2 separate regions of the Homo sapiens genome follow, and region 2 is linked to region 1. Evidence: fine-mapped expression QTL. A gene starts in region 1. The other region holds a variant in brackets. All regions are shown on one strand. Distances are from middle to middle. Region 1 holds the start of ARCN1 (archain 1 coat protein complex I subunit delta). Region 2 overlaps ARCN1 (archain 1 coat protein complex I subunit delta).

Region 1 (11,688 bases):
CTACTAAAAATACAAACACATTAAGAGACTTAGACATGTCAATCAATCACAATGTATAAATCAAATTTGAACAGTGACTGAATAATTGATAATATTAAAAATTATTGCTAATTTTTTAGGTGTGAAAATATGCTATCATGGTAATATATTTTTATGTAAGGAATACTTATATATTTTTAAAAAAGAGTTGTGTAGTTTTGAATCCTTCCATAGTCTCTCATATTAAAGGTGCTCCCTCAATGACTTTATATTGAACTAAAATAATTGTCTGGGATACATCTTATCTTCAAACTACGCTAGTTTTGCATGTAGTACTAACAAAAGGTCACTGGATTTAGTAATTATCCTGAGGATCAGAATTCACAATTTCTTTCTTTTTTTTTGGAGACAGGGTCTCACTTTGTCACCTAAGCTGGACTGTAATGGTGCAATCTTGGCTCACCGTAGCCTCAACTTCTGGGCTTGAACAATCCTCCTGCCTCAGCCCCCTGAAAGGAGCTGGGACTATAGGCAGGTGCCATCATGCCTGGCAAATTTTTGTATTTTCGGTAGAAGTGGGGTTTCACCATGTTGCCCAGGCTGGTCTTGAACTTCTGGACTCAAGTGATCAGCCCACCTTGGCCTCCCAAAGTGCTGGGATTACAAGCATGAGTCACCACGCCTAGCCAGAACTCACAATTTCATGTGTTGAATATCAGTTACAAAATATTCCTTTTAAAAGCAACTATCCTAATATTATATAAATGGGTTTTTATGACTTGGGATAAAATTTCCCAAACTGCCAATATATCACACATGGATTCAAAACTGCTAAATACCAAACTGATGATTCAAAAAGTGGCCCCAGTGATGACATGATGTTCATAAAGAATCTAGAAAAAATTGTTTTATTAATATGAAAATGGAAAAAAGTAATTATTTCTAAATTAAACTTTATTTATTTAAAACATATACATATAAGTGAATTATTAACTATTTTAAGAACATATTTGACTATTTTTGCTACCTTTTTTTTTTTTAAGATGGAGTTTTGCTCTTGTTGCCCAGGCTGGAGTGCAATGGCAAGATCTCCGCTCACTGAAACCTCCACCTCCCAGGTTCAAGTGATTCTCCTGTCTCAGCCTCCCGAGTAGCTGGGATTACAGGCGCCTGCCACCACGCCCGGCTAATTTTTTTTTTTTTTTTTGTATTTCTAGTAGAGATGGGGTTTCACCATGTTGGTTGGCCAGGCTGGTCTCAAATGCCTGACCTCGGGTGATCTGCCCACCTCGGCCTCCCAAAGTGCTGAGATTACAGGCATGAGCCACCGCCCGGCCTATTTTGGCTGCATTTTAAAAAGTTTATACAATTGGCAAAAAGCTTTCCTTCTTAATAGTTTCATCAGAAAAGTAGGGAATTCCCTTATATTTGGGATCATTTCACATTGGTTTCTCCTTTTCCTAAAGACTTAGAACTAGTGTCCCAAATTTGCAAAGAACCAAGCTGATATTAGAAAAACTAAATGACTGGGAGTGAGAAAATCTATTTTCTAGTTTTGTTCTTCTATTTACTATCTGCCTGACCTTCAGTTACCCAACCTCTCTTAACCTCGTTTCTTTTCCTATAAAATGCAGCATTATCTAATGACCTTACAAGCTATTATGAGGGCCAAATGACTATAATGAAACTGTACTTCAGAAGTGCTATACAACTTGTAGCACATATATTCATGATGTAAAACAGCACCATTAGTAATAATAAACATGCATCTCATGAAAAAAATTTATGCCACTTCAAGGTAATGGATTTTTCTTTTTTTATTAAAAAAAAAAAAAAAAAAAAAAAAAAAAAAAAGAGAGACGGGGTTTTGCCATGTTGCCCAGGCTACAAATTCCTGGGCTAAAGTGATCCGCACACCTCAGCCTCCCAAAGTGCTGGGATTACAAGTGTGAGCCACAGCATCCGGCCAAGGCAATGGATTTTTGCCTTTGTCAATATTTTGATATTCAAATAATGAATATTGACTCTCCCCCCAAAATTTTACATACAGTTTCAGGGAATGCATCGATCCTCTAGAGAAGTTATTTCAAATGGCCCATAGAAAATCCCCTCATGCGATGAGAAATATTATTAATAAATGGGAGCATATTGTAAATGTAATCCCTGTAGAGCCTCCTATCCCTAAAAGGTTGAGAGTCATAGCTCTAGGAAGTCATGGTCCTCTATGTTAGAATTTTATGAGGTTTTGAAGAAATAAGACAAATCAAATGAACACCTAAAGAAAGGACAGCTCAGACCAAAACTTCAGACCTATATAAACATGCTGCATTTAATAGAAACCCCATATCTAATAATAAACCTGTTAGAAACAATGTTTACAGGCTCAAGGGTAGTTCTTAGGTTTCCAACTGGAGTTAAAAACACCTCTATACCATACAAGTAAAATTTAGGTAAAAACATCAAAAGCAACTTGAGAGGGAAAAAGGAACAAAAAGGTGTATGTTACTATCCACTTTATTTATTTATTTATTTATTTATTTATTTATTTATTTATTTATTTATTTTTTGAGAGAGTGTCTCACTCTGTAGTCCAGGCTGGAGTGCAGTGGTGCCATCTTGGCTCACTGCAAGCTCTGCCTCCTGAGTTCAAGCAATTCTCATGCCTCAGCCTCCTGAGTAACTGGGACTACAGGCACAGGCCAGCACCACCAAGCCTGGCTAATTTTTCTATTTTTAATAGAGACAGGGTTTTGCCATGTTGGGCAGGCTGGTCTCCAACTCCTGGCCTCAAGTCATCTGCGCGCCTTGGCCTCCAAAGTGTTGGGATTACAGGAGTGAGCCACTGCACCTGGCCCATCCACTTTACTGATGAGCATGTTCAAAAACTAATTATAGGTACTGGTAATCTCCATTTTTGCGATATTATAAGAATTAACTGAGTAATTATTTATCGAACATCTACTATACATACAACATGCTTTCTGAGAATTAAGATGACACAGGCTAGCATTCTGCCTACAAGAAGCTTAATAGGGATAAGACACAAACACAAATAACTGTAATATGAGGCAGAATGTGTTAAGTAACATGAGAGAGTAACCGATAAAGTGCGTGGAAATTCAGAGGAAGAGATTACTTCCAGCTGGTACAGTCAGGGATGACTTGATAGAAGAAACAGCATTTAGGCCGGGAGCGGTGGCTCATGCCTTAATCCAGCACTTTGGGAGCCAGGGCAGGCAGATCACCTGAGGTCAGGAGTTCGAGACCAGCCTGGTCAACATGGGAAAACCCTGTCTCTACCAAAAAATACAAAAAATTAGCCAAGTCTGGTGGTGCACGTCTGTAGTCCCAGCTACGGGGAGAGTGAGGTGGGAGGATTGCTTGAACCTGGGAGGCGGAAGTTGCAGTAAGCCAAGATCATACCACTTCACTCCAGCCTGGGCTACAAAGTGAGACTCTGCCTCAAAAAAAAAAAAGAAAGAAAGAAAGAAAGAAACAGAATTTAGATCATGCTTTGATGAATTCCAGGATTTGTTTGTTTTGAAACAGAGTCTTGCTCTATTGCCCAAGCTGTAGTGCAGTGGCGTGATCTTGGCTCAGTGCAGCCTCAACCTTCTGGGCTCAGGTGATTCTCCCACCTCAGCCTCCCAAGTATCTGGGACTACAGGCACAGGCCACCACACCTGGCTAATTTTTTGTATTTTTCTGTAGAGACAGGGTTTTGCCATGTTGCCCAGGCTGGTCTCAAACTCCCAACCTCAAGTGATCTGCCCGCCTGAGCCTCCCAAAGTGCTGGGATTACAGGCATGAGCCGCCACACCTGGCCAGAATTCCAGGCTTTCAGTACGTCAAGATGAAGAAAGAAGTAGGGTAAAATCATATGTCTCTCTTTGAGTCATTCCATTATCCAGATACAAGCAAAACAAGGCTTCCAAAATAGGACCATAGTTCCCCATACTAAGTATAGCATAAATCTCCGAACACCCAGGACACCACAAATTACAGGTTCCAGGCAGTTGACACAGGTCTCTCTGTTACAGCTACTAATATGGCTAGAAGGTATGGTCACCTCTAAACATGATAAATTTATCCTATCCTAAATTAACATTTGTCTTCTTAAAGTTCTTGAAATAATAAACCTCTTTACATTAATGTTTACTGGTTTAACAATTATTAAAATATAGCATATACTAAAAGGTAAGTTAACAATTTTCCCTATTGAAATTTGATCTGATTTTCTCTGAGGAAGAATTAATAAATATGATTACAAAGTTTTTGGTTTTTTTTTTTTTTTTTTTTTTTAACATTTTTGGAAAAAACATTCCAGATCTAAAAGGAACTTGCAAGAGCCCTTGATTGTCTTACAGATGTGAAAACTGAGGGCCCATAAGTTAGATGATCTCTCCAGGACGGTTAAAAAAAAAAAAAATTCCCTCATAAAGTTGAGCTTTGCCAAACAACTTTTAATAATTCTTACATGGTTTGAGTACACTATCTTTGGACTAAATAACAACTCTCTCCTACACAGACTTAACTACATGAATTGTTAAGTGCCTCAAGTAAAAAAACCTGGAGAATTAGGTTTCTGTTCTGCCTTTGCCACTAATTATGTGACCTTGGATAAGTCACTTAATTGATTATTGAAATATCCCTAACATAGGAGGTTAGTTTACATGAAATCCAAAGTGCTCTGTGTCTTTAAAGTTCTGTAAGTCTAAGCATTTGAAAACTACAGTAACAGAAAAAAAAAAAAACAACTACAGTGACAGAAAATGTACAATACTTCCATTTTATACCCACTGCTCCAGTTCTAACCACTTTGGAACAATATTTTATAGTAACATTAGGCTGCCAGAAGGCAAATTGTCTAACCATAACAAATTGTGTGTGCAAGAGAGATACAAGAATAACAGGTGGTATAATAATTCAGGATAAATATGCACAACTCTCTCTCAAAAAAAGTCAAGTTCTTTCTTGAATCTCTAAATGCTTCAGGATCCCTTACTTCCAGAATTATAGTCACCTTCTCCTTTGTAATTCACCGCAATATTTTATACACATATACATGCACACACAATTCATGGTCATATTAAGGCTAGTTTCTATAATTGTCAGGGAGGACTGTTCTGTCTTTTCTATTTATATGAAGCTATTATAGATAAAATCAGAGAGAAGATTACAATAAAATGTAGACCACATACGAAACCTAAAACTTGAAAAGTAATTTACTCAGTGAGGGTTTTAAGTCCATCACATTTCTATTCTAAAACAAAAGCTTGCAGAGAATTAAAACACACACACACACACACACACACACCCGTTATCAGTTTCTGCAGTGAACTTCTATATGAAGACATAAATAGATGGCAAATCAATGGAAACTCAAGAGAATCATTTTCTTTCTTTGCTGTCCCTCAAAACACAATTAAAAAGATACATAAATAATACAGGGGCCGGGCGCCATGGCTCACACCTATAATCCCAGCACTTTGGGAGGCCGAGGCGGGCAGATCACGAGGTGAGGAGATCGAGACTATCCTGGCTAACATGGTGAAACCCCGTATCTACTAAAAATACAAAAAAGTAGTTGGGCGTGGTGGCAGGCGCCTGCAGTCCCAGCTACTCAGGAGGCTGAGGCAGGAGGATAGCTTGAACCCGGGAGGCAGAAGTTGCAGTGAGCTGAGATTGTGCCACTGCACTCCAGCCTGGAGACAGAGCGAGAATCCGTCTCGAAAACCAAACAAACAAGAAAAAAAGTCAGAACATGTTCTCATTAATTTGCAGAATACAAAAAAAAGATCAAATCAAGGCCCGCATGCCTACAGTCCCAGCTACTTGGGATATGGAGGCGGGAGGATTGCTTGAGGCTAGGAGTTCTAGGCCGCAGTGCACTATGATAGCGCCTGTGAATAGCTACTGCCCTCCAGCCTGGGCAACATAGTGAGACCCTGTCTCTTTAAAAAAAAAAAATCAAAAGATGCCTTTCTTTGTACTTTATTTTATGATGAAGTCATGAGAAAGCATTTGTTTCTGCATTTGTTCACTTATTTATCTATTGGAACTTTGCAGTCTAGGACATTCTGCACTTCAATAACTAAAGCCAAAGGGAATTTATTTTTTAAAAAATCAATGTTTACGTACTGATATCTGCAACTTACTTTGAAATGTATATTTTTTTTTAATGGAGAGAGGGATGGATGGATGATTAGATGCATGATAAAATATAGTGAAATGTTAGTTATAGAATCTAGTTGGTGGTTATATGGGTATTCACTACAAAGTTCTTTCAACTTTTCCAGATGTTGGAAAATTTCATAATGAAATGTTGAGCTAAAATAAACGCTGGAAATTTTGATACAACTTTTAGATAAAAATTTCACCCTATCTGGACATTTCTACTGTCCAGGGATCTGTTTGTAAAGGAGCAGGACCCAAAAACATTACACAGAAATCATACCAATGTCTTAACACTCTACAGAGCAGAATGTACTGAGATAAATTGTTCTCCAGAGTACACAAATCTGTGGGTATCTGGATCATGTTAAGTCCCAAATAATTCAGAAATATGTGACACAACTCTATGTATACGTACACATGTCAAAATAGCATGCAAAAGTTATATTTTATATATATCACGTAGGGCTTTACCATCCCTCAGTTATCAATGAATTAAAAATACTAAGTTCCAAGAACCTTTTAACAAAGAATATTTTTAGAAAGATTACCTTTATCTGGTTTATATAATACAAGACCTTAACTTTACTATTAAAATAAAAATATGCTCTAAAATGCATTATTAATTCCAGGGTGTAAACGGGAACTGAGTTTCAAAATCACTAACCAAATACAGAACCTCCTGGAGAAACTGAAAATACAAGTTTCTGGAAATTTTGTGTCCAACACAAAAATTTTAGGAGGCAAACCTGTTTGATGCAATTTATATACCTGAGGCTGAGAAAAGCTGTTCAGTGGCCTAAAGTCCAAGCATGAATTCCCCCCATTATCCAAGTTCTTATCTAAAGGGTTGTCAATAGAACTTATTAGGATTGCCACCAAATTACATTCTGCCATCTCTCAGGTACACTGGACGATGTTTTAAATCAAGTTATCTATTGACAAAAGAATAAAAAAGAACAGAACAGAACATCCTTCAAAAGACTAAAGGACATAAGGTGCACTGAAAAATAAATTACTAGCTTTTTTGAAACCAAAGAATGTCTACTACTTCATGAATATCCACAAATCACAGCGATAAAGGAAGATTGAGTGATGTCAGCAGTTCTGATTTCCTCCATCCTCAACCACATTAACCTTTCTCATCCTTGTAACAGATGAGTATACAAAGATAACGCATGGGAAGGCAAGTAACTGGTCTCGGAGGCTAACCCATCCCTCTTACTCCACCTCCTGTGAGACATCTGACTACGACATGCCACATACACATTTTTCTTCACCTGGACAATAAGTTCCTTGAAGGCAAACCCTGTGTTCTCTGGAACCTGCTCACATTTTCCCAGTGGTCTACACAGTGTATGTACCCCGAGTCACACTAACAAATGGACACAAGTGAGTTCTGCGGAAGTAGTGGAAGGTTTCAGAGACACTTGGGTCCTATACATTAGTGTTAGAAGTTACTCCTTTCCGCTCTGTGTCTCCATTTCCCCCTTCTGAACAAAAAGAAAAATTTCTGGACACCAGTGGATTTGCATTTCGAGTTATCAACGGCCTAGCAAACACCGGGGGTGGGAGACAAGCTCTGATTAACAGAAGGACCAGAACCTCCGGAGACAGGCCCAGCCTGCTGAGCCTAAGCGCCAGGGAACCGGCGGGACAGCATCAGTTCCGAGGTCCGCAGCCTGGGACCCGCACCACCACCACGAAGTTCTCGCAGAGCAAAAACGCCGGGCCGTCTCAGGGGCAGGTCCCAGCAAACGAGGGAGTCCAGCTGGTTGGGGGGTGGTGCGGAAGCGGGCACGACGACAGATGGACTGGAGTCAGCTCCATCGGATCTCCAGGAGACCGGGCACAGGAGGCCACACTGCTCCCCGAGCCCGGAGCAAAAGCACTCTGCCCTAGACCCTCAGGGCGGGGCTCCTCCGGCCCCTGCCCCAGGCCCGCCGACAAGGAGAGACGGTGAGGCTCGGACCCCAGGAGTTCGGGTCCTGGCTCGGATCTTACCATGGTGAGGGCGGTGGTGGGGCGCGCCCGCACTCCGGCTCCACTGGGGATAGGGGTAGGGTCTGGGGAACGGGAGCACCAGCAGCTCTGGACCTGCTGCCCCCTTGACAGGAACCGCTGCCGCTTCGCCTCTTGCCAAGATGGCGGCCCCAAGCCACGTCTTCAACCGGAAGCGGCGCAGGTCAAAGGGCGGGGGGGGGGGCGGGGCCTGTGGGCTGGGGAAATTGAGGGTACCCCGCTCCGGTTACGATTAAGCCCAGGAGGTGTAGGGGGCGTTCACCCTCCAGCTGTGGAACCTCGTATCTCTCCCCTTTCACTGTCATCGCCTTCATTTATTTTGCGTCACATCTTACAGTTTAACAAGCCGCTGGCACAGCCACTATTATTTAATATACAGGATAACCTGTGTGCCTAAAAGACCAGTATCCGGAATATATAAAGAACTTTTTTTTTTTTTTTTTGAGATGGAGTCTCACTCTGTCGCCCAGGCTGGAGTGCAATGGCGTGATCTCGGCTCACTGCAACCTCCACTTCCCAGGTTCAAGCGATTCTTCTGCCTCAGCCTCCGGAGTAGCTGGGATTACAGGCACGCGCCACACCACGCTCGGCTGTTTTTTGTATTTTTAGTTGAGACGGGGTTTCACCATGTCGGCCAGGCTAGCCTCAAACTTCTGACCCCAAGTGATCCGCCCGCCTCAGCCTCCCAATGTTGGGATTACAGGCGTCAGCCACCGCGCCTGGCCTAAGAACTCTTATAACTCAGCAATAAAAAGACAAATACAGTATTCCTGTCTAAAAATGGGCTTCATCTGCAAAATGGAGGGAGTAGAAAACACAAAATTAAAATGAGCAAAAGATTTGAATAGATATGTGTCCAAAGAAGATATATAAATGGCTAATATGCACATTAAGAAATGTTGAATATCCTTAGGGAAATGGAAATCAGACCCGTGGTGAGACGTCATTTCACACTCACTAGGATGGCTATCATAATAATTGTTGGTGAGGATGAATGTAAAATAGTGCAGCCACGTTGGAAAAGAGTTTGGCAGTTCCTCAAAAAGTTAAACAAAATTACCACATGACTGAGCAATTCCACTCATAGGTACATACCCAGGAGAACTGAATATATGTCAACACAAAAATGTGTACTCTAATGTTCATAGCAGCATTATTCATAGTAGCCAAAAAGTGGAGACAATCCAAACAAATCCATTCATCAATAGATGTGGCATATATATGCAATGGAATATTATTTAGTCACAAAAAGGAATAAAGTACTGACATGCTACAATATGGATGAACCTTGAGAATATTATGTGAAAAAAGACGGATACAATGGGGCACTCATATATGATTCCATTAATACGAAAGATCCAGAATAGAAGAAAATCCACAGAGACAGAAACTAGCTTAGTGATTTCCAGGGGCTCAGGAAGGGTAGGAATAGAGAGTGACAGTTAATTAGTGTAAGATTTATTTCTGGAATAATTAAAACATTCTGGAATTAAGCCAGGCATGGTGGCATGATCCTAGAGTCCCAGCTACTTGGGAGGCTGAGTTGGGAGGATGGCTTGAGACCAGGGGTTAAAGGTCAGCCTGTGCAAATTGTGAGACTTAGACTCTTAAAAAAAAAATAGTTCTGGAACTAGATAGAGGCAAATATACTAAAAACCACTAAATTGTATAATTTTAAAAGGTGAATTTTTATGATTTGTAAATTATATCTTTAAAAAAACATGCACTGGAAGCAGGGCAGTTGTGCTCATGTCCATTTTGTATATGAAGAAAATGGTGAAAAGTTTAAGTGACTTACCCAAAGTTTCTAAACCAGTATATGATGGAACCAAGACTCAAAATCTGTTCTTGTGATTCTCATGTTATTTCTTGTATGCCAAATTTCAGATTTTTCAGAGTATAGCTGATTCAGTAGTTCTTCCTTAAATCATTTTATCCTACATCCTTAGCTCAACCGAACAGCACTCATCCATATTAAACCTGTATGTCCACAATTAAGTATAATAGCAACTTTTAATTGAGTGCTTCATTTGTGTCAGGTACTTTACACATGTTATTTCCAATCTTTTACATCAATCCAAATAAAGATACTGAGGATCAAAAAAGTTAAGCATTTGTCCAAACTCACACAACTAGTAAGTGGTAGAGCCAAGTTCAAAGTCAGTTTTCTCCTGGCTGGGCGCGGTGGCTCACGCCTGTAATCCCAGCACTTTGGGAGGCTGAGGTGGGCGGATCACAAGGTCAAGAGATCGAGACCATCCTGGCCAACATGGTGAAACCCCATCTCTACTAAGAGTACAAAAAAAAAAAAATTAGCTGGGCATGGTGGCGCGTGCCTGTAGTCTCAGCTGTTCGGGAGGCTGAGGTGGGGGAATCCTTGAAGCTAGGAGGCGGAGGTTGGGTTGCAGTGAGCCGAGATCATGCCACTGCACTCCAGCGTGGCGACAGAGGGAGACTCCGTCTCAAAAAAAAAAAAAAAAAAAAAAAGCTGGGCGTGGTGTCTCATGCCTGTACTCCCAGCTATCTGGGAAGCTGAGGCATGAGAATTGGTTGAACCTGGGAGGCGGAGGTTGCAGTGAGTTGAGATCACAACACTGCCCTCCAGACTGGGCAACAGAGTAACACTCAGTCTCAAAACAAACAAACAAAAAAACAAAGTCAGCTTTTTCCATTAAAACACACTGCCTCTGTATCTCCTGTGTGTTCCCTAACATTTATTGAACACTTACAGCATACCAGCCATTACTCTAACTTCACACAGATTATCTCATTTAATCCTCACAAGAATCCTCTGAGATAGGTACCTTTATTGTCTCCATTTTACACATGAGGAAATCAAGGTACAGAGAAGAAAACTATCCCACCACAGGTCTCATGGCTAAAAAGTAGGTAAGCGAGGATTCAAACAAAGGCTGTTCAACTTTGGACTATACCCTTAAGCACTGCATTATAGACTTCTTGCTCTTACCCGTATCAATTCCATCTCCAATGGCCTTCTAATAGAAATCTTTAGAAAGCTCAAATATTTTTAAATTTTATATGTCTGGGAGGATATATGTCAAACTGTATTTTAAAGTTTTTTTTCATTAAAAAAACTTTTTTAGAGAGATGGGGGTCTTGCTATGTTGCCCAGGCTGGTCTCGAACTCCTGACCTCAAGCAGTACTCCCATCTTGTCCCCCCAAAGTTCTGGGATTGCAGGAATGAGCCACTGAGCCCAGTCAATATTTTAAAAAAAAAAATTTTTTTTTTTTGAGAAGGAGTTTCGCTTTTGTTGCCCGGGCTGGAGTGCAATGGTATGATCTCAGCTCACTGCAACCTCTGCCTCCTGGGTTGGAGGGATTCTCCTGACTTAGCCTCCCAAGTAGCTGGGATTACAGGCATGGACGACCACGCCTGGCTAGTTTTTTGTATTTTTAGTAGAGATGGGGTTTCACCATGGCCAGGCTGGTCTTGAACTCCTAACCTCAAGTGATCTGCCTGCCTCAGCCTCCCAGAGTGCTGGGATTACAGG
Region 2 (11,688 bases), 23 kb before region 1:
CAATAGTTTTTCCAAGTTAAATTTTAAAAAAGCATAAGAAAGTAAGCAGCTCTGGCGGAGCGCGGTGGCTCAGGCCTATAATCCCAGCACTTTGGGAGGCTGAGGCGGGCGGATCACGAGGTCAGGAGTTTGAGACCAGTCTGACCAACATGGTGAAACCGTCTCTACTAAAAATACAAAAATTAGCCGGGGGTGGTGGTGTGGAATGCCTGTAATCCCAGCTACTCAGGAGGCTGAGGCAGGAGAATCACTTGAACCCTGGAGGTGGAGGTTGTGGTGAGCCGAAATCATGTCACTGCACTGCAGCCTGGTGACTGTCTCAAAAAAAAAAAAAAAAAAGGCTGGGCGCGGTGGCTCACGCCTGTAATCCAGCACTTTGGGAGGCAGAGGTGGGCGAATCATCTGAGACCAGGAGTTCAAGACCAGCCTGACCAACATGGTGAAACCGTCTCTACGAAAATACAAAAAAAATTAGCCCGGCATGATGGCGGGTGACTGTAATCCCAGCTACTCTGGAGGCTGAGGCAGGAGAATCGCTTGAAGCTGGGCGACCGTGGTTGCAGCGAGCTGAGATCGCACCACCACACTCCAACCTGGGCAGCTAAGCGAGACTCCATCTCAAAAAAAAAAAGTAAGCAGGTTTATCTGAGGGAATTATCAACAGTTCCCAAAAATTGTTCCCATTATCCCTCATCCCTGGATCACTTCTCATCACGGTCTAATGGGGAAGAGAAGACTCCAAGACTCCAAGATTAAAGATGAAGCCTGACTTTTTTGACTCTCCAACTGCCGTCTGACAAAATTAAGACTCCAATCCCCAAAAAGGCCAGAAGTAGCATCAAATTCAAAAGCTACACTGTCAGGAGTGCATGTATCAAATGTAGAAAAATACGCAAGGAAGCACAATACATATAAGATGGAAAAAGGCAATGAATACTCTCACAGATTACTTTCTCTTAAAAAAAACATGTCATTAATTTTTAATGTTAGGTCCCATTACAGCATCCTGAATCAACAAGCAGACACCAAAGTGAGTCAATAATCCAATAAACATCTCATTTTATAATGCGCTTTATTTGATTAAAGAATTTGCCTTCTTTGTATACACTGGAATGTTATATTCCCTATGTATTTTACAGGGTTACAAAATGTCTCTCATTTTAAATATTACCCCAAAAGTAATCTCAGAAAAAAAAGGTTTTTTGAAATTAAACTTGACTTTTAAAAAATCATACGGACAAACAACTTTCAAACAAAACTGGATTAGTAGGATTTCTTGCCTGCTTAACTAACATGACAGACTTCTTGTCCCAAGCCCTTCTCAGAAAAACCTCATGTGGAAACCAAGCTAGAGATAAGAATTCTTCCCTGATGCAGTTAGGGGAAAGGGAAAGGCTAGAAACTTCTTTGGCAAGCAATTCCACACACAGCCATTTATGTGTGAGTGCTCTGCTTCAAGCACAGTACACTCTTTGCAGGGACGGCCAGATGTTCAGAGTGGGAGTGGTACTTTTCAACCAGCTAAAAGTGCAGAAGTCATCTAGTCGTCTGCCTCTTCCCACTGCCAGTGCCTGCAGCCTTGCAGCAACTTTTAACCACCCCTATGGACTGGAATATTGAGTTAAAAGCCAAGGCTGAGCTGGCTGACGCTGTAGTCTCCATTGAAAAGGAAATGGATGAGATGGAACCGAGAAACCACCAGTACATGATGACACTCAAAAGACTTAGGGGGAAAGAGAAGGAAGGATTTCAGAGATGGGGACAGACTGGTGGAAAATGTTGGGCTGACTGGAAGGAAATGGGGTATACGTGAGTAATATGTACATATCGAAACAATCAGTTGCCTCCTGAAATGCAAAAAATCAAATGGTGAAATGGAGCCTCCTTGATAGTTTAGGGCCAACAGGATTGGCAAAGACTCCCTGAACCCACAGCCTTCAAAATCATAACCCCATTTCTGTTAGAAAGGAGGGGACTGATGACAGAGAGTGCAGTCTGGAAGAGGGAGGTGGTGAAACTGAGGAATGTGAATGGATTACAGACTGTGGCCATTACGTTTTAGCTTAAGTACCCAAAATGTGGAGAAATGAAAATTTGGGTAGCAACAGCAGCAGACATGATTACATGTGGATGTGAAATCCCTAACTGGACAGACATAACCATTCTTTTAGACATCTTGAAGAGGGACTGTGCCATTTGAAAGGTGCTTCTCAGCTATCTTTAATATTGACACAAGTGGGATTCATGGTACTGTTCTAAACTGGAAGGACAGGCCCTGAAAGGAAAACAACTTGGCAAAGAGATGAAGGAATGAATTGATACGGGAAAAGAACAGAAGACATGCGTATCTTTTAACTTCTAGACCCCATACCCCTCAAATAGTTCACCTGAATAGTCCAAAAATCAAGAATGGGTTAGATATACTTGTTCCAGGAGTGCCAAATAAATATAATGCCTGTAAACAGATGATCCCAGTGCCTGACTGAATGTATAGAAAGAAAAACCTAAAGGTAAAGGGTATGAATGATTAAAATTTTCTACAGAGAAAACTTTTTAAAAACAAACTAAGTATGAAATATAACTATATTTAGGGATTATATTTAGGGATTAAAATAAAGGAGCAGCTGGGCATGGTGGCTCATGCCTGTAATCCCAACACTTTGGGAGGCTGAGGTGGGCGGATTGCCTGAGCTCAGGAGTTCGCGACCAGCCTGGGCAACACGGTGAAACCCCGTCTCTACTAAAATACAAAAAATTAGCCAGGCGTGGTGGCGTGCACCTGTAGTCCCAGCTACTCGGAGGCTGAGGCAGGAGACTTGCTTGAACCCAGGAGGCGGAGGTTGCAGTGAGCTGAGATCATGCCATTGCATTCCAGCCTGGGTTACAAAGTGAGACTCCATCTCAAAAAATAATAATAATAATAATAATAATAATAAAATAAAAATAAAGGAGCAACTTAGGTAAAGGTAGAGGAGGTATTTAACTGGGGGCATTCTCTGGAGAGCTTGCTTTCCTGCTGGCCAATACAATCTGCCAAAGAAAATTAGCAGCCTTTCCCTTTATGTTTGTGCCATTTCCTTATCAAAGAATGTCTCTGTGACACTGAAACATGGGGGTGAGTCGAGGGTCCTTGCGCGCAGAGAATCGTGCATTGTATCAGAAAAAAGGGGTCTCCAGTGGCTTGTAAATCTGGGAAAAACTCTTCAGCCATCATTGGCGTCTTCTTTATTAATCTGAAAATTTTCCTTTTCAGCTCCCTCTTCTTGGTATTACAGAATTTCATACTTATCCACTAGGAAAGTGGTCTCTGTGGAAAACCTGACGGGGCTGTTTCCATCTACCTGGGTCACTTTGGTAACCTAGGAAAATAAACAAAGAGTAAGGTAAAGCAGGAGGTTTGAGTCTCCATCATGTTGACTACATTCTCATTACAGAACATATCAATTTCCCTAAAAGCGGTATTAAAAGTAACTGTAAAATACTAGAAAAATGTTCAATTCACAACTGAAAGTCACAGCATCACTCTTCCCCACCAAAATGATTAAGCTGCTTTTCTTCTAGATGGAGAAAAGACAACTGTTGGGACGAGATGTTCCGTAGTATTAAGTAAAAGCTCCAAAATGAGTGGCCACAGCCCAGCCCTGCCCTGTATAACCTATGAAATTCATAGACATTCTATCAGGATGATATATTAACATTCTGACCCAAAAGGCAACGTTCTAGCTCTTCACATTATTCATTTGCTCTGCTCTCAAAGTCTCGTGTTAAAAGTCCCAGTAAGCTGCTCTATCATACTTATTTTTTAGGCATGGCTGGTCCAATGAGGTTTTTCCTTTTTAAATAAATAAATGTCCAGCTTAATTAATTACATGTAACAATGGTACCTATAACGGCACCAATACAACACTTGAACCACTGATTCGTATTTTCTAATGAAGTTTTGGGAGAGCAATTATAATGTCCTAATCTTTGAATAGCCCCAATAGGAAAATTTACCCATTTCTATCTAATGTCTTGAGTTCAATACAGTTGCTTCCAACACTGATGGGGTTATGTCACTAACAGGATAGGGAGAGAGAACTGCTCTTTGGAATCATTCAAGGGAGGAAGCTGCAATTTTCTAAGCATTTACAGGGGAGACGGAGACCATATGGGAAGCTAAGGTAGGGCCAGAACAACAAGCAAGTCAAAAAGAGGGGAATATTAATAATATAAACTGGGTCCTAGTAATGCAAATTAAAAAACTGGAAGAACAGCCAGACGTGGAAGCTCACTCCTGTAATCCCAGCACTTTGGGAAGCCGAGGTGGGCGGATCATCTGAGGTCAGGAGTTAGAGACCAGCCTGGCCAACATGGTGAAACCCCATCTCTACTAAAAATACAAAAAAAAATTAGCTGGGTGTGGCAGTACACGCCTGTAGTCCCAGCTACTTGGGAGGCTGAGGCAGGAGAATCACTTGAACCTGGGAGGCAGAGGCTGCAGTGAGCTGAGATCGCACTGCACTCCAGCCTTGGTGACAGAGCAAGACTCCGTCTCAAAACAACAACAACAATAAAAACTGGAAGAATGATGAGTTAAAAAATAATGATCCGGGCCGAGCGCGGTGACTCGCGCCTGTAATCCTAGCACTTTGGGAGGCCGAGGTGGCTGGATCACGAGGTCAAGAGTTTGAGACCAGCCTGGCCAACATGGTGAAATACCGTCTTTACTAAAAATACAAAAATCAGACAGGCGTGGTGGCGCATGCCGGTAGTCCCAGCTACTCAGGAGGATGAGGCAGGAGAATCGCTTGAACCTGGGAGGCAGAGGTTGCAGTGAACCAACATCACGCCATTGCACTCCAGCCTGGGCAACAAGAGTGAAACTCCGTCTTAAAAAAAAAAAAAATCCGCCAGGCGTGGTAGTTCACGCCTGTAATCTCAGCACTTTGGGAGGCTGAGGTGGGCGGATCACCTCAGGTCAGGATTTCGAGACCAGCCTGACCGATATGGTGAAACCCTGTCTCTACTAAAAATACAAAAATTAGCCAGGCATGGTGGCAGGCGCATGTAATCTCAGCTACTGGGGAGGCTGAGACAGAATTGCTTGAACCCGGGAGGCAGAGGTTGCAGTGGGCCGAGATCATGTCACTGCACTCCAGCCTGGGCAACAGAGCAAGACTCCGTCTCAGAAAAAAAGGAAAAAAATCCATTGGGCACTGTGGCTCACACTTGTAATCCCATCACTTTGGGAGGCTGAGGCGGGTAGATCACCTGAGGTCGGGAGTTCAAGACCAGCCTGACCAACATGGAGAAACCCCGTCTCTACCAAATATACAAAAATTAGCAGGGCATGGTGGCGCATTCCTGTATTTCCAGCTACTTGGGAGGCTGAGGCAAGAGAATTGTTTGAACCTGGGAGGCGGAGGTTGCGGTGAGCTGACAGCGCGCCATTGCACTCCAGCCTGGGTGAAAAGAGCAAAACTCCATCTCAAAAAAAAAAAAAAAAAAAAAAATCCGAAGGAACAGCTCACACATCTCCATTGCTTTGCCTACCTAAAGGACAGAGTTTGCAACAGAATTGGCTCATGATTATTTGTACTAATAAAGGGAGCTGTGACATAAATAACCCTCAAATAATTTCCATTTGTAATAGAATGGATTTTTTTTTTGTAGTAATTTTGTCTTCTAAATAAAACAATTTCATTCTTTGGGTATAAATCAAGTGACAGCAAGGCCTTAAAAAAACCATGTGTTGGGGTGTTTTGGCAAATCGACTTTAAAATATATAAGGTTAAAAAAAAACAGGCAACTAAGTGTTTATGAATCTTGCATAATCCACAAGTACTTTTATCTGTATTAACATTCCATTTCTTTACTTTGTCTGATCTAGAGAGGAAAACTGAGGTAAAGCAATAAAAGAATTTGACCACGATCATACAATGAATTAGAAAGGGAATTCCTGTAGGAGACATCAGTTTTTTTCTGAGCTTTATCTGACCACAAAAAGCCATGCTACCTGTCTGGCATCCTATACGTGTTCCTACTGTCCTACCACTTTCCCTATATATGTTCTCAACTAAAATGGAGTACCTGTATGTTACAGTAATTTTTCTTGGAGACAAAGGAAACTTGAACAGGGAAGAAGTCATTGGGCTGCCCAGCAATGCTAAACTCCAGGCTGCCACTCTTATTTTTGGCATCAATCACAGGCAGGCACCACTCCAGGGTATTTCGTCGACTGTCATGTCGATACTCCCCATCGATCTCACCGATAACAGGCGCGCCGACACCAGACCTGTTGTGAGAAACATTCTGGTCAAGGTAGCTGTTCAGAGCTAGAACTCCACCACGGAAAACCAACCCCAAATTTGATATATGATCCCCAAATTTTGCCTTCTAGGACTACAATTTCAGGGGAAAAAAAGGCTAATAACTTCAAGGATCAAACGATGAAGTCCTAGCACCTTGGGCTAAGAGTTTCACTCAATTCCCTCTGTAGATATAGTTAATATGCAAAAATAGGTATTTGGCAGATATGCCTATGGGCTGCTCCAACTTAAGGACTAGATCTGGGGACTGCGACCAACAGATGTGTTAAGATGGCTATGTTTCCAAAAACCCTGCACCAATAGGTTGCTGCCCTATAAATAAGGAATTTTAACATAATGTAGCACTCTTT[A/G]TAGGAGACAATGGGGAAACAAGCAGATTGATAATAGTGGGGGAAAACTCTAAACATCAATAGTGGAGATGAATGGAGGCCTTTGAGAGAATTTGTTTTCTTGTTCATTTGTTTTTTGAGACAGAGTCTTGCTCTGTCGCCAGGCTGGAGTACAGTGGCGTGATCTCAGCTCACTGCAACCTCCGCCTCCCCAGTTCAAGCGATTCTCCTGCCTCAGCCTCCCAAGTTGCTGGGACTACAGGCGTGTGCCGCCACGCCCAGCTAATTTTTGTATTTTTAGTAGAGGCGGGGTTTCACCATGCGGGCCAGGATGGTCTCATCTCCTGACCCCGTGATCCACTTGCCTCGGCCTCCCAAAGTGCTGAGATTACAGGCATGAGCCACCGCACCCGGCCGAGAATTTGTTTTTAAAGATTTCAGAATGTTTCAAACTTATTGAAGTTGACACCAATGGGTTTATTTGATTTACAATCCAGTAAATGGACTTTTATTTGATAAGTGAAAGCACAATTACCCCTGGGGCAAAATGGAAACATGATGGGAGAAACAGATCCGTAGTTGTCCTTAATCTGCGAGAGAAGCAGGGCTAGTTAAGATTTACTCTGCACCCCTACACACGGCTGACAGGCAGTGTCACCTACTCCTACACATTCTAAATTTACCAGCTTTTAATTCACCAGTGACACTCAATGTTTATATTAGGGATAGGGTAAATAAGGGAGACAAAGTAAACTTTAAGGGTGGCATAAGACTATTAACTCTTCCCTATCAATTTCAGGGTCCTGGTTCTTTTATGTTCCTTCTCTGTGCCCTTGCTCTAATTCTGATTCTGATCTCTTCTAATTTGATCAGTTCTAGACAACGGGAGTAAAATGTTGTGTAAGGGTCTCTTCTGGAGACCATTGCAAAACTGAACTAGAATACAGGAAACCACCACAACCACAATTATAGGGTAGACAGGCCTCAAAATTGTAGCATTCTATAAATAGTCTAGTAAACTAAATCTTGACAAACAAAACTCTACCTGTCACCAACACCCAAGTCCTACAACAGTTCAAGGCAGCCATCTATTGTTCTGAAGCAATAACCATACTGTAGAGGATAAGATGGTTACCCATTAAAGGGGATACTGGTAATAAAGTATATTTTTAAAATTGGAAACAAGAATGACTAAAACCAGACCTGATAATGTAAAGGCTTGAATTATCAAAAAGGGAAGAAAACTATGAATTAAATTAGTACTTTTTTTTTTTTTTGAGACGGAATCTCGCTCTGTCACCCAGGCTGGAGTGCAGTGGCGCGATCTCAGCTCACTGCAAGCTCCGCCTCCCGGCTTCACACCATTCTCCTGCCTCAGCCTCCGGAGTAGCTGGAACTACAGGCGCCCGCCACCAGGCCCAGCTAATTTTTTGTATTTTTAGTAGAGACGGGGTTTCACTGTGTTAGCCAAGATGGTCTCGATCTCCTGACCTCGTGATCCGCCCGCCTCGGCCTCCCAAAGTGCTGGGATTACAGGCGTGAGCCACTGCGCCTGGCAAATTAGTACCATTTTCTCTGCAGCAATAACTGAGCGACATAACAGTAAAGATACACTAAGAATACACTTACTGGTGCTCATAATTAAACATTGTGCTTAATCATGAGGGCTGATGGGTAGGTGAAAGGAGCTAGGATTTACTGTGAAGTAATAACTGCATGCTCACTGTAAATGTTACTAAAAAGATAAGGTAGAGACCATTTCCAGTTGATCCTAGATAGTGGGCCATTTAAGTGTACAACAAAAGCTTATTGGAACTCAACTTCTGGGGTTGACATGACATTTTTGTTATCTTGATTATGGTGGTGGTTTCACAAGTGTAAACATGTCAAGATTATACAATTAAAATATGTGTAGTTTATTGTATATAAATTATGCTCCAAAAGGGCTGTTAGGAAATTTACTGTAACTAATGTAGACATCTTGTTCAACAAGAATCAACAGTTCCCTTGAACACACTCTCATCTTTAGTGAAAGTTTAGAGACTAGCACGTGAAAATGAAACATTCAGCCCGATAGACTCAATTTCTTTGAAACCTGCAAAACAGAAAGTTTGACTGACAAATGGCTCCTCCTTCTGGAAATCTTCATTACTACACAAACAAGCTGAGGACCAACATCTAAAAACAGCTCCAGGCCAGGTGCAGTGGCTCACGCCTGTAATCCCAGCACTTTGGGAAGCCAAGGCAGGTGGATCATTTTGAGGACAGGAGTTTGAGACCAGCCTGGCCAACATAGTGAAACCCCATCTCTATTAAAAATACAAAAATTAACTGGGCGTGGTGGCACACGCCTGTAATCCCAGCTACTTGGGAGACTGAGGCACGAGAATCGCTTGAACCTGGGAGGTGGAGGTTGCAGTAAGCCAAGGTTGCACCACTGCACTGCAGCCTGGCTGACAGAGTGAGACTGTCTCAAAAAAATAAAAATAAAAATAGCCAGGTGCGGTGGCTCACGCCCATAATCCCAGCACTTTGGGAGGCCAAGGCGGGCAGATCATCTAAGGTCAGGAGTTTGAGACCAGCCTGGCCAACATGGTGAAACCCCGTCTCTACTAATAATACAAAAATTATCTGGGCATGATGGCACATGCCTGTAACCCCAGTTACTCGGGAGGCTGAGGCAGGAGAATCACTTGAACCTAGGTGGTGGAGGTTGCAGTGAGCCGAGATCACATCATTGCACTCCAGCCTGGGCAACAAGAGTGAAACTCAGTCTCCAATAAAAATAAAAAATAAATAAATAAATAAAAACAGCTCCAGATCTACAACTGGCTTGTTCAATTTGGTTTTAAAGTCAGTAAAATCCATCCCTTCCAAGTGCTCAATGTATTTCAACAAGTGTATGCAGTAAGCACCACCACAATCAAGTCACAGAGCAATTCTTGGCTGGGTGTGGTGGCTCACGCTTATAATCCCAGCACTTTGGGAGGCCGAGGCGGGCAGATCACTTGAGCTCAGGAGTTTGAGATCAGCCTGCACAACACAGCAAAACTCCGTCCCTACAAATAATACAAAAATTAGCCAAGCGTGGTGGTGTGCGCCTGTAGTCCCAGCTACTCGGGAGGGTGAGGCAGGAGGATAGCCTGGGCCTGGGAGGTGGAGGGTGCAGTGAGCTGAGATCGTGCCAGTGACCTCCAGTGACAGAGTGAGACTCTGTCTCAAAAAAACAATTTCCTTGCTTTACTTATTTATAAATATGAAATGTTTCATAACTTACATGTCAGCCTTGCACAGGGCCCATGCTAATCTTCTCTGTATGGTTCCAATTTTAGTACCTGTGCTGCCAAAGCAAACACAAGTCCTAGAACATTCCTATCATTCCCAAAAGTTCCCTTGTGCCCCTCTGAAGTGAAGTACCTTCTTCTCTACCTCCTCATTTTTATTCAATAGTATTACCTTTTCCAGAAAGACAAAGAAGTGGAATCACATAACATGCAGCCTTTTGTATCTGGCTTCTTTCACAACTAGCTTTTTAAAGAAGTATCTTTGAATGGACAGTCAGGTCAGGTAGGTGCTGACTCCAAAATGAGTTCCAAAAGACCAGTTCTCTAAGTCCACCGTAGAGGACACAGGGACAGCACTTACGGGAGTGGGATGGTGATAACCACATCATTCAGTTCTAAATTATCTTCTTGTAGCTCATATTCTATGTTGACATCACAGCCATTTCCACTCTCCGAGGGCCAGCAATTAACTGAGGAGAAAGCAAAGCAGTCATACTAGAATATTAGAAAAAGATGGCTGGGTGCAGTGGCTCATGCCTGTAACCCCAGCGCTTTAGAGGACCAAGGTGGTAGGATCGAGGTGGGAGGATTGGTTGAGGCCATGAGTTCAAGACCAGCCTAGGCAACAAAGTGAGACTCCACCTATACCAAAAAAAAAAAAAAAAAAAGCCAGGCGTGGTGGCACTTCCCTGTTCTCCTAGCTACTCAGGAGGCTGAGGTGGGAGATCAGCTGAACCCAGGAGTTCAAGGTTGTAATGAGCCATGATCACACCACTGCACTCCAGCCTGGGTGACAGAGGGAGTTTGTGTCTTTTAAAAAAAGTTAGCTGGATGTGGTGGCATGTGCCTATAGTCCTAGTCCCAGCTACTAAAGAGGCTGAGGCAGGAGGATGGCTTGAGTCCAGGAGTTTGATGCTGCAGTGAGCTATGATTGCCCCACTGCACTCCAGCCTGGGCAACAGAAGAAGACCTTGTCTCTAAAACAATAACAACAACAAAACTACAATGGTTTCAAAATGAAAGCTATTAAAAATGAAAACTAATGATAAAAATATACAAAATGCAGCACCAGGTCCATTTCAAAAGAAAGTCATTTTGTCAGAAAGAACTTTGCTATGGTAATAAAAATAAAAGTGTACCAGCAAGGGCTATTTCTAGTTCTCAATGCAAACTAGCTTAGTGGGACTGGCCAGAGGCACTTACTTGTCAGTGGAATAAAAGATTCCTCTGTGGTTTGTAGTCTCCACTTTAGCACCCCTACGTCACTGTTGACTGGAAATGACTTCTCTGGATTCTTCAGGCCAATTAGAGACTCTGCAGTGAAAAGTTTTTTATCCACATTTGGATGGGTCTAGAATGAGAGGGAAAGGAAAACTCCTGAGGTTCAGATAGACGAGAAACAACCCCTCACTAGGCTTATATGGCCCACAATCTAAACATCCAAAATAGAGTACCTAACAAATTCCAATTCTTTTTCATTTTGAAGAAAGATTTCCCTTCTTCAAAGACTTATTTTAAAATGATTTAAGATACTTAAAAACTAGTAATTTTTTAAAAAAAAAGCTAATTTCAACTCTAAAAGCCATTACAGAACAAGTTTGCACCTGAAAAAGTTAAAAGACTATTAACCAAGTTCTTTCCAAAAATACTTCACAGGGAGCAGGTTCATGGTGGGGCCAGGTTTGCCAAGCAGAAGGCTCCAGTAAGACCCTGATCAGCTGCCTGGGTCAGACAGCAGTTCTGGCCTTATATAAAGTAGCAGAA

What was found.
Region 2: its variant is fine-mapped to the expression of ARCN1 in whole blood (TOPMed, PIP 0.98).

Annotation. Positions count from the first base shown.
Region 1 is chr11:118,569,020-118,580,707 of GRCh38, reverse strand. ARCN1 (archain 1 coat protein complex I subunit delta) reads right to left here and starts at 8,299. Exons shown (of 10, transcript NM_001655.5): 1 at 8,158-8,299. The coding sequence starts at 8,160. It also overlaps a transcript of IFT46 not described here. RefSeq lists enhancers at 7,918-7,997, 8,508-8,637.
Region 2 is chr11:118,592,296-118,603,983 of GRCh38, reverse strand. ARCN1 (archain 1 coat protein complex I subunit delta) reads right to left here. Exons shown (of 10, transcript NM_001655.5): 7 at 11,128-11,275; 8 at 10,286-10,394; 9 at 6,073-6,277; 10 at 951-3,359. The coding sequence ends at 3,270. LOC124902765 (a long non-coding RNA gene) reads left to right here. Exons shown (of 2, transcript XR_007062908.1): 2 at 1-1,085. It also overlaps the pseudogene RNU6-1157P. Among named protein-coding and RNA genes, the nearest start is that of PHLDB1, 9.5 kb to the left of the region's middle. The variant A/G (reference allele first, on the strand shown) is at 6,662.